2 separate regions of the Homo sapiens genome follow, and region 1 is linked to region 2. The links come from fine-mapping of genetic effects on gene expression. A gene starts in region 2. The other region holds a variant in brackets. All regions are shown on one strand. Distances are between the middles of the regions. Region 1 has its middle 72 kb from the start of MME. Region 2 holds the start of MME (membrane metalloendopeptidase).

Evidence for each region. PIP is the estimated chance that this variant, and not a neighbour inherited with it, causes the effect.
Region 1: its variant is the best candidate, but not a certain one, in a credible set for the expression of MME in whole blood (INTERVAL, PIP 0.64).

The regions. Positions count from the first base shown.
Region 1 is chr3:155,005,887-155,010,279 of GRCh38, forward strand. No RefSeq gene overlaps it. Among named protein-coding and RNA genes, the nearest start is that of MME, 72 kb to the right of the region's middle. The variant A/G (reference allele first, on the strand shown) is at 2,716.
Region 2 is chr3:155,078,184-155,082,581 of GRCh38, forward strand. MME (membrane metalloendopeptidase) reads left to right here and starts at 2,136. Exons shown (of 23, transcript NM_007289.4): 1 at 2,136-2,283.

The DNA.
Region 1 (4,393 bases), 72 kb before region 2:
ATGAAAATTGACTAACACAGAGAGTGACCTTCAAAACTCCCTTTATTTACTAAATATATTTCCATATATGTGGTAGCTTTCTTTTTAATTTCTGCTGTCAACAGTCTGAAAACCACTGACATCAGTTAACCTCAATCATTAGATAAGTAATCTGCATTAAGCACTTCATAATACATTTTCATATTAAATGCAGGATTCATTTTCTTCCTCCATCAGTATTAATAGGCCACCCACTCCAATTAAATGCAATAATCAAGAAGTATTTCTAAGCAGTAGTGTATATCTCTCTTCAACAGAGATATAATGATATCTCTTCCTGTGTCATCTGAAAAGGCTTAGATGGAATAAGAAGCTATTCTGTCATGGTTAAAAATGGAAGTTAAGTCTGAGAGGAGTGCAAGAGTGAAGATACTAGTGAGACAAAATAACAAGTGCAGGGACCATTTCAAAGTAAAGCAATCATTAGAAGTGCAGAATAAAAGAAGGCACACTTGTCTTTTTTAAAAAGGGAATGAAAAAGCTTGTGTTCTCAGAGATGAGTTCTTTAACCCCAGACAGCTATGAGCAATTTGTCAACCACTCTGAAGTGCAGTGTGGAGTCAACCCCAGGGTCTCAGCCACATGCTTTGGGTACTGGTTTCCATGAGGCTAAAAGCACAAGAGGATATTCTGTCTCAAGGACATCCTAGCTCTCATTGCAGTCCAAAGAATATCAAAACAACTTAAAAGTAATTCTTACAAATTAAATAAGCTATATTAATAGGCACGCTGGGTGGAAGGGAAAAAACAGATCAGCAAAAGCTACCAAATAAAAGTGTCTACAGAGCATGGTGCAAAAATCACTGCCTTTTGCCATGGCTCTGAATCCTGGCTTCACAATTTACCTTATCACCTTGGGCATTCTTTTCACCTCTATGAACCTCAGTTTTATATTCTATAAAATGAAAGTAACGTACAGTTTGTCCTCCATATTTGTGGGTTTGCCATCTGTGGATTCAACCAACCACAGATTGACAATATTTGGGAAAAAAAGAATTCCACAAAGTTCCAGAAAGCAAAACTTGAGTTTACCTCATACCAAGTACTACAATGAATCCATGGGAATGAAGTGATGTATAGGCATTGTATTAGGTATTATAAGTAATCTAGAGATGGTTTAAAGTACGAGAGAATATGTGTAGGTTATATGCAAATATTGTGTCATTTTGTATAAGAGACTTGAGCATCGGCAGATTCTGATATCCAACAGAGGTCCTGGAACAAATCCCCCATGAATACCAAGAGATTATTGTACCTAGGATTTAAAGAAATCATGCTACTTAAAGTTTCTAGACTATAATAGGTTCTCTTCTTTTTTTTTCGAGAGGAAGTCTTGCTCTGTCACCCAGGCTGGAGTGCAGTGGTGCAGTCTCAGCTCACTTCAACCTCGGGGTTTAAGTGACTCTCCTGCCTCAGCCTCCCGAGCAGCTGGGACTACAGGCACACCCCATCACACCCAGCTAATTTTTGTATTTTTAGTAGAGGTGGGTTTTCACCATGTTGGCCAGGCTGATTTCAAACTCCTGACCTCAAGTGATCCACCCGCCTCAGCCTTTCAAAGTGCTGGGATTACAGGCATGAGCCACAGTGCCTGGCCACTAGACTATAATAGGTTCTTAATGTATTTATTAGTATCTTGCTACAAAAGGAAACCATATCAATAAATACATTGATTAAGAACTTAGGGGATTGCTTTGCATTCACTCTGACAATCTTTGTGATTTGGTATAGGAGAAATATAATCATCTAGAAACTTTCTGGGCTTGTTCTTTGCTCCTCATGTTTCCTTCAATGCCAGTCAGACAAGGACCTGGAACTGGCAGAGCTAGTCAGGAAGGTCAATGTGATCCCTCAGTTCCAATCTTCCTCACTACGTATCTTGACCAGTCATAGACTTGTCTTCTGCTGTGGTTTCTACGCTGTAATTTTTCTAATCTGGAGTTCTGGTTTCAGCTTCCACTCTCACCCACAGTGAGAAGAGCTACTGACCCACTTTTCTGGCCAGTCCTTCTTGTGAATTATTCTTTTGTCCAGCATATTCACAGTTACACTTGACTGGCTCCCTAATTACTTAGTAACAGGATCTCTTATCAGATCATCTGTCATGGTATCCCAGTGCTTGTGTTCCAGTAATCCTTATTTTACATGCTAACGGCCCCAAACTACAAGAGCAGTGATGCTAGCAATTCAAATATAAGAGGAGCTAAAAAATGTTTCCTGTAAGTATTCATTAATAAATATATATATATATATATAAAATGTTCTGAGATTGCTAAGATTTATTGTAAGAGCAAATCTTCTATCCATTAAACTGTGAAGAACAAAAAATAAATTTGTGCTGTTGTACTTCAAACTGCAAAAGTTATAGCCACAGTGCATAATAAGTGCTTGGTTAAGATGCAAAAGTCATTACATTTGTCATTGGAAGACATTAACAGAAATGTGTTCTGATTTACAGCAACTGGGTTTGGTACCATCTGAGATTTCAGGCACCCACTGGTGTTCTTAGAATCCCTTCTGGTTATGGGGGAACTACTATATGAGCAAAAGTCCGAAGTATCCACTGGACTCCAAGCTCCTGGTGGAAACCCATATTGGTCCATTTTCATACTGTGTAAAGAACTGTGAAAGACTGGGTAATTTATAAAGGAAAGAGATTTAGCTGACTTACAGTTC[A/G]GCATGGCTGGAGAAACTTATAATCATGGCAGAAGGCAAAGGGGAAGCAAGGCACATTGTTCACAGGGTGGCAGGAAGGAGAAGTGCCTAGCAAAGGAGAAAGAGCCTCTTATAAAACCATCAGATCTCATGGGAAATCACTCACTATCAAGAGAACAGCATGGGGGAAACCGCCCCCATGATTCAATTACCTTCACTGGGTCCCTCCCTTGACACATGGAGATTACGGGGATTATAATTCAAGATAAGATTTTGAGGGGACGCAAAGCCTAACCATATCAGAATCCCAGAGCAGTGTCTGGCTTCAACCACAGGTAAGCTAGCTACACCCTTAGAATGCTGGGCTTCACTTCAGCCTTACTTCTGGTGCCAGTTCTGTTGCCCCCGGTTCCACCTAACTCCAATACCTACCCTGTTCATCCAATCCTATCGAGGATAGCCAGCCTTAGAAAATGAAGCTCCAGAACACATACTATATTTACTTCAGTTTTTGTTATAAAAGAAGGGGGGCGGTGTTTAAGAATAGCAATGAAAAAAAAATGCCTTCCTTTATAACTCTGGGTTACATGGCTAAAAATTTGCTAGCAGTGAGGAATTAGTCTGTAAGAAAGTTACAAAGATAGACATCTAACGGAATCTAGTGACATAGCACAAAAGCATAATTGTTGCTAATTTATGAGTTTGAGGCCCTTTCTCTTTTCAGCCAGGAAAAACAGTCTCACCAATTTCTGACCCCCTCGCATCCCAATGTGATTGTTCTGTATCTTCTTTGAAAATGTCAGTAAAATGCTGTAAACTCTTTGTTATATGGAATTGTGTGGAAACTGGATGTGCTGATTCATCTAAAAATTTATAAGCATTTTCTAAATGTAAATGTGACAAAATGAGGACAAAACCACCTTGGAGTACCTTATACTTTCTCTGATTCTAACAGCCCTGCAAAAGCTCTTAAAGCTCCACAGTTGGTATTGAATGTCTCCATTATTATTGTGCTATTGGGAGGCACACATATCAGTTTATCAAGAGTTCTTAGGGCCGGGCATGGTGGCTCCTACCTGTAATCCCAGCACTTTGGGAGGCTGAGGCGGGCGGACCACCTGAGGTCAGGAGTTCTAGACCAGCCTGGCCAACGTGGCAAAACCCCGTCTCTACTAAAAATACAAAAGAAATTAGTCAGGTGTGGTGGCAGGCGCCTGTAATCCAGCTACTAGGCTGAGGCAGGAGAATCGCTTGAACCCAGGAGGCGGAGGTTACAGTGAGCGGAGATCACGCCATTGCACTCCAGCCTGGGCAAAAAGAGCGCAACTCCATCTCAAAAGAAAAAAAAAAAGAGTTCTCATTGCTGGAATGTCAAGAAACAACAGCTATATTGTAGTTTTGACTGTGTTTTTTTTAATGTCACCATCTTTACAAGACATATGGTAACATTCCTCAAGTTATCCAAACAAAGTCTGATACTGATTAAATACTAAAGTTCCTTATAATTAATGTTCATGAAGGGTGTGGATAAATGATATACATAGTGTGTTCTATGAAAACAAAATCAACAATTTAAGAGGTCTTACTTTTTTTTTTTATTTTGTGTTTTGTTTTGCTTTATTGTCTCCATAGGTTAAATTCTTCCCCTCTATGATTTTTATCATAGTTATGCATGAATAACTATGGGTGGAAACTGGCT
Region 2 (4,398 bases):
CTGCACTCCAGCCTGGGCGACAGCACGAGACTCTGTAGGAAAAAAAAATTCCAGTTGAGATGCTTTCCAGGGCGCTAGTCAAGCCCCGCATGCTTATTTGTGGGAGTGAAAACACCAATATTTCGGGATTGTTGTGAGGACTAAATAGTGTCTGTAAGATGCACAGAGAAAGCGTAAATAGACGTCAATAGCACTTGTTAGGTCTACACACTCCATTTTTCCTCTATATTAATCGAATTATTTAAAGATTGGTTAGCTTTTTGGGGAAATGTCTCTCCATTGTATTCCACTTATTAGGATGAACTACCTTTTCTCCTTGCTTTTCAGCTTTCTCTGCTATGAAAAAGATGGAAAATTTTTTAGCACAAGGGGACTCTTCTCAAGCAGCAAATCATTTTGATATTAAAAACAGATAATTGCAAACCCAGTTTTATTTCAGTATGAATTCCGCAGTGGAGTGTGAATATGTGTGTGTATGTGTGTGTGTGTGTGTGTGTGTGTGTGTGTGTAATTACCTGTGATTCAAAAGAGGAAAGGGATCAGTATTAAAGGTACTTGTACACTGGAAGCAAAAAAAAAAGGAAGTTTAGTTCCTCTGAGCTCCTTGGCAATTATAGCTGCTAAAGGTAGCTTTTACAAAGAAACTGCCTTTGTGCCTAAAGTATTTATTTCCTTGTTTGTATTTACCCCTTTGAGGAGGAATCGCTGTGTCTTGAGTGAAAGGGGTACGCTGCTTGCTTGCATTAAACTGTGAGGGTCCAGGCGCATTACGGCTGATTTCAGTAGGTAGAGCAGACACACTTTAGTTTATTTTTCTCTTTCTCACTCCCCACCCTCAACCTCCGATGTACACACGTTTTAAGATTCCCTGAAGTCAGGAGGTGGGAGCGGAGAGTTTCAGTTCAGATCTTGACATGAGAGTACTTCGACCAAGGAAAAGAAAGGGAAGAAAGAGGGAAGCGGGGTGGAGAAAGCAGGAGCAAGGAAGGAAAGAAGGAAACGGGGAGGGAGAGTAAGAAAAAAGAAAACGAAGGAGGGAGGGAGAGAGGACATTTAAATGAAGAAGGAAGGAAGCTTGGATTCAGGGAGGAAAGGGAGCGGGAAAGAGAGCGAAAGAAGAGCGTGAGAAGAGGCAAGCATTATAGTCTCCGGTCCACAGGGGAGAGATGGAGCCCCCTCAGGACTAGAGAATCCCGAAGAGCCCGTGTATTGTTTTCTTGAAAGCCCCGAAGCTAAGCAATTCTAAAAATGTTTAGCAAAGCCCTTTTGGGAATGGTGAGATGGGGGGTGGGGAGGATGGGACATTTTCATTGCCACCGCCCGCCCCCCGTCTCCCCGGCCCCCTCACATGAAGTGACTGGATTTGGGAGACCTAGCGGAAACCTTCAGGTCACCCAGGGAACTGCTCCTCTCTCTGGTCCTGCAGCGGCGAGGCGGGGTAGGGGGTGGGGGGGGTGGGCCGTGAGAGCGCCGAGACGCGCGGGGCGCGGAGATGTGCAAGTGGCGAAGCTTGACCGAGAGCAGGCTGGAGCAGCCGCCCAACTCCTGGCGCGGGATCTGCTGAGGGGTCACGGTGAGTCTCTGTGGGTGCGGGTCGGAGGGATGCCCAGGTGCCTCGTCGCCCCACGGCCCGGGCGGAGGCGGGTCCGGAACCTCCCCCAAGTCCGGCCTCAGCCTGGAGCCCGCGCGCCTTGGGCGGATGCACGGACTGAGAGGCGCTTGGCTGGGCTCTCAGCCCGCCACTGCCACCCGGCCCCGTGCGCTCATTGGTCGGGATGTGTCGGCTCAGCAGCCTCCAACTTCTCCCGAATCCCACTGGTGAGTCCCAGGAGAGCGAGCTGAGGGAGAAAGGTCCAAAGGGCGCGAGCGCCCAGGGCGCTGGGAGCCCGTGGGACGGGCACGGGGAGGGCAGAGCCAGCCGAGGGGAGCGGCTGCCGGGAGGTGCGCTGAGCAGGGTCCGCAGCTAAGGTCCAGCGCGATCCGAGCGCCCAGGACCCTGCGGCCGTGGAGGAGGCGTGCCCTGGGAAGGAGCCGCTACTGGGACCTGAAGAGTGAGGGGAGGGAGAGGGGCCCAGAGGGTGACCTGGAGGAGGGCTCTGGAAGTCACGTCAGGTTGGCTCTTCAGGTTCATTTCCATAGTTCCCTGCGGCCTCTGCCTTGGGGAGTTATGTTTTGTTACCGAGATCCGCGCTACCAGATTGCACCGGGGCTGATTTGGGGGCTGGGAATTTGCCATTCTGCTGTACAGACACTGATTTTTTTTTCTTCTTTTTAAAAAGCAAGGTTTGTTTTCATTTTGGTTTCTGTCGGATTTTCTCATTTGTAACTCACTTTTCTATTTTTACTTTTCTTAACCGGAAGATCTTTTCATTATCCCACCTCTTCATCTTGCTTTTAACCTGATTTCCTATTATATAATTAATGCTTAAATCTCACAAGGGTTGGTCGGTGCGGGGCTGGTGTGTCCTTTTGTAGATGAAAGTTTAAGACCTCTTAACTGGTTTCAGTCTATTTGTCTGGTTTCAAAATAAGGGTAATTGCAACCAAATATCCCTCTTTAGCTTCTCGATCAAGTCGATTCCTCCCCCATATATGATTCAAATGGCAATTTTATTAAACTGAAAACTAGTACCTGACTTGCAGCGTCAGCATTTGGAAAGTGCTTGTCGGCAAATCGACTGTATGAAGGCGTGTAGCTTCATCCCCTGCCATTTTTGTGGGTTCTAGCACTTTAAAAAATTGTCTGGTAATTTCTTGGACTTAACCCTGTGTCTTTGGTTGTAGAGCAGCACTAACCAGGGGAGTAATATGGTTGGCACTTCGTGTCCAGAACTCCGTATTTCAGGCTGGGAAACACCTAATTAATGTCTGGGAAACAAGAAGATGATTTATCCTGAGTACCTCTGTCCTCAGCTTCTGCAGACACAGTTTAAATATGGAAACTGTTTCTCCTTCTTCCTGTGCCTCAGTTTCCATAGAACAAACTGTAATTGCATAGCACAGCTTCAGGAACCTGCAGATATAAGTTAATGTTATAATGTGCAGTGAAGATGAAAACTGCTTAGCTAAGTCTAAGTCTGTAAGTCAATGAGATTTCCTTTTTAACAAATCAGTTATCCAGGTTTCCTGCTTTGACTGTCTGATATAGTAATGCTTATGCTCAACTGGTATAAGAATTGCTGCTTTACATTGCTTTGAAATTAAGCTTACACTTAAAATAGTAATTTATTCTGTTGGTAATATTGTCGAGCTGAAGTTTGCAGGTTCTTGTTATCTTAGACCTCCTAATTCTCTATTCTCGTCTGTGGCAGTGTCCACTTTTCCGTTTAAACTTTTTATTTAACACATCTTCAGTTGAAGTGAAATATTTTAAGAATACAGGTATGTTTTTGCGTACCCTGCTTTATATGGGACTATAAGCCTCAACTTGGTATTTTTTTTTTTTTTGTATTCTTTTGTTTACTTGTCCCCCTTACTCTTCTCTATGGGATTGGGTGTGGTTAAGTTGGATATTCAGGTATTTGGGGTTTAGTCATATGTTCCACAGTGAGATTCCAGATACTGTCCCCTGATGTCTTAAAGAAAAATTGTGAACCTTCCAGAATTAACTGGAAATGAACGACAAAGTTAATTAGGAGATTAAACTTGCATCATTTCTGCTTTTGCTCAATGCTTTTGAAAAAAGGCTACTAAGAGCAAAAGACTTCCTTTAAGAATTTACAGGGCATTTACAAGAGGGGGAGATGGAGGAAGACTTTGCAGGTGATTCAAAGATTATATTGTTTTGATGCAGCTTCTGTCACTGTCTTCATTTCTCTGTAACTGTTTCTGCAAACTTGGGTGCTGACCCATTAAGAGCCCAGCTGCTTCAGTACCCAGTCTCAAGGGTAAGGAGGAGAAGCCAAGGGAAAGTAACTTACAGGGAGAAAGAAATGCTTATCCACTAGCTTTACTACACCACAAGGCATGGAGTTTCCACAGAGCACCTGTAATTTAACCCTGAGGCTGCCCTGGTTCACCCCTTCGCTTTACTTTACAGGGACACTGACTGTCATTTCTAAGGAAGAACTAAGAAAAAAAAAAGTCCTTTTATACCAGTAAAACATTTCTCTACATTGTCTTCTGACATATGCGGGGGGAACAATATTCAGGAAAGGGAAATACTTTAGCAAATGTGCTTAACATTCAGGTGTTCTTTAGGACAGTCATGAAACATGGGGAGACTGGGAGAATTATTATTGTTTACCTCTCTGTAAAGTGTCCAGAGTATTATTAAATTTGTTCCCCTCTTTCCTTTGCCCAACCAATACACTATTAAAATAGGACTACAATCAATGCAATTCCATATCATAACCCCAGGGGTGGTGAGACTAAGCCAGCATGCCTTACATAACCATT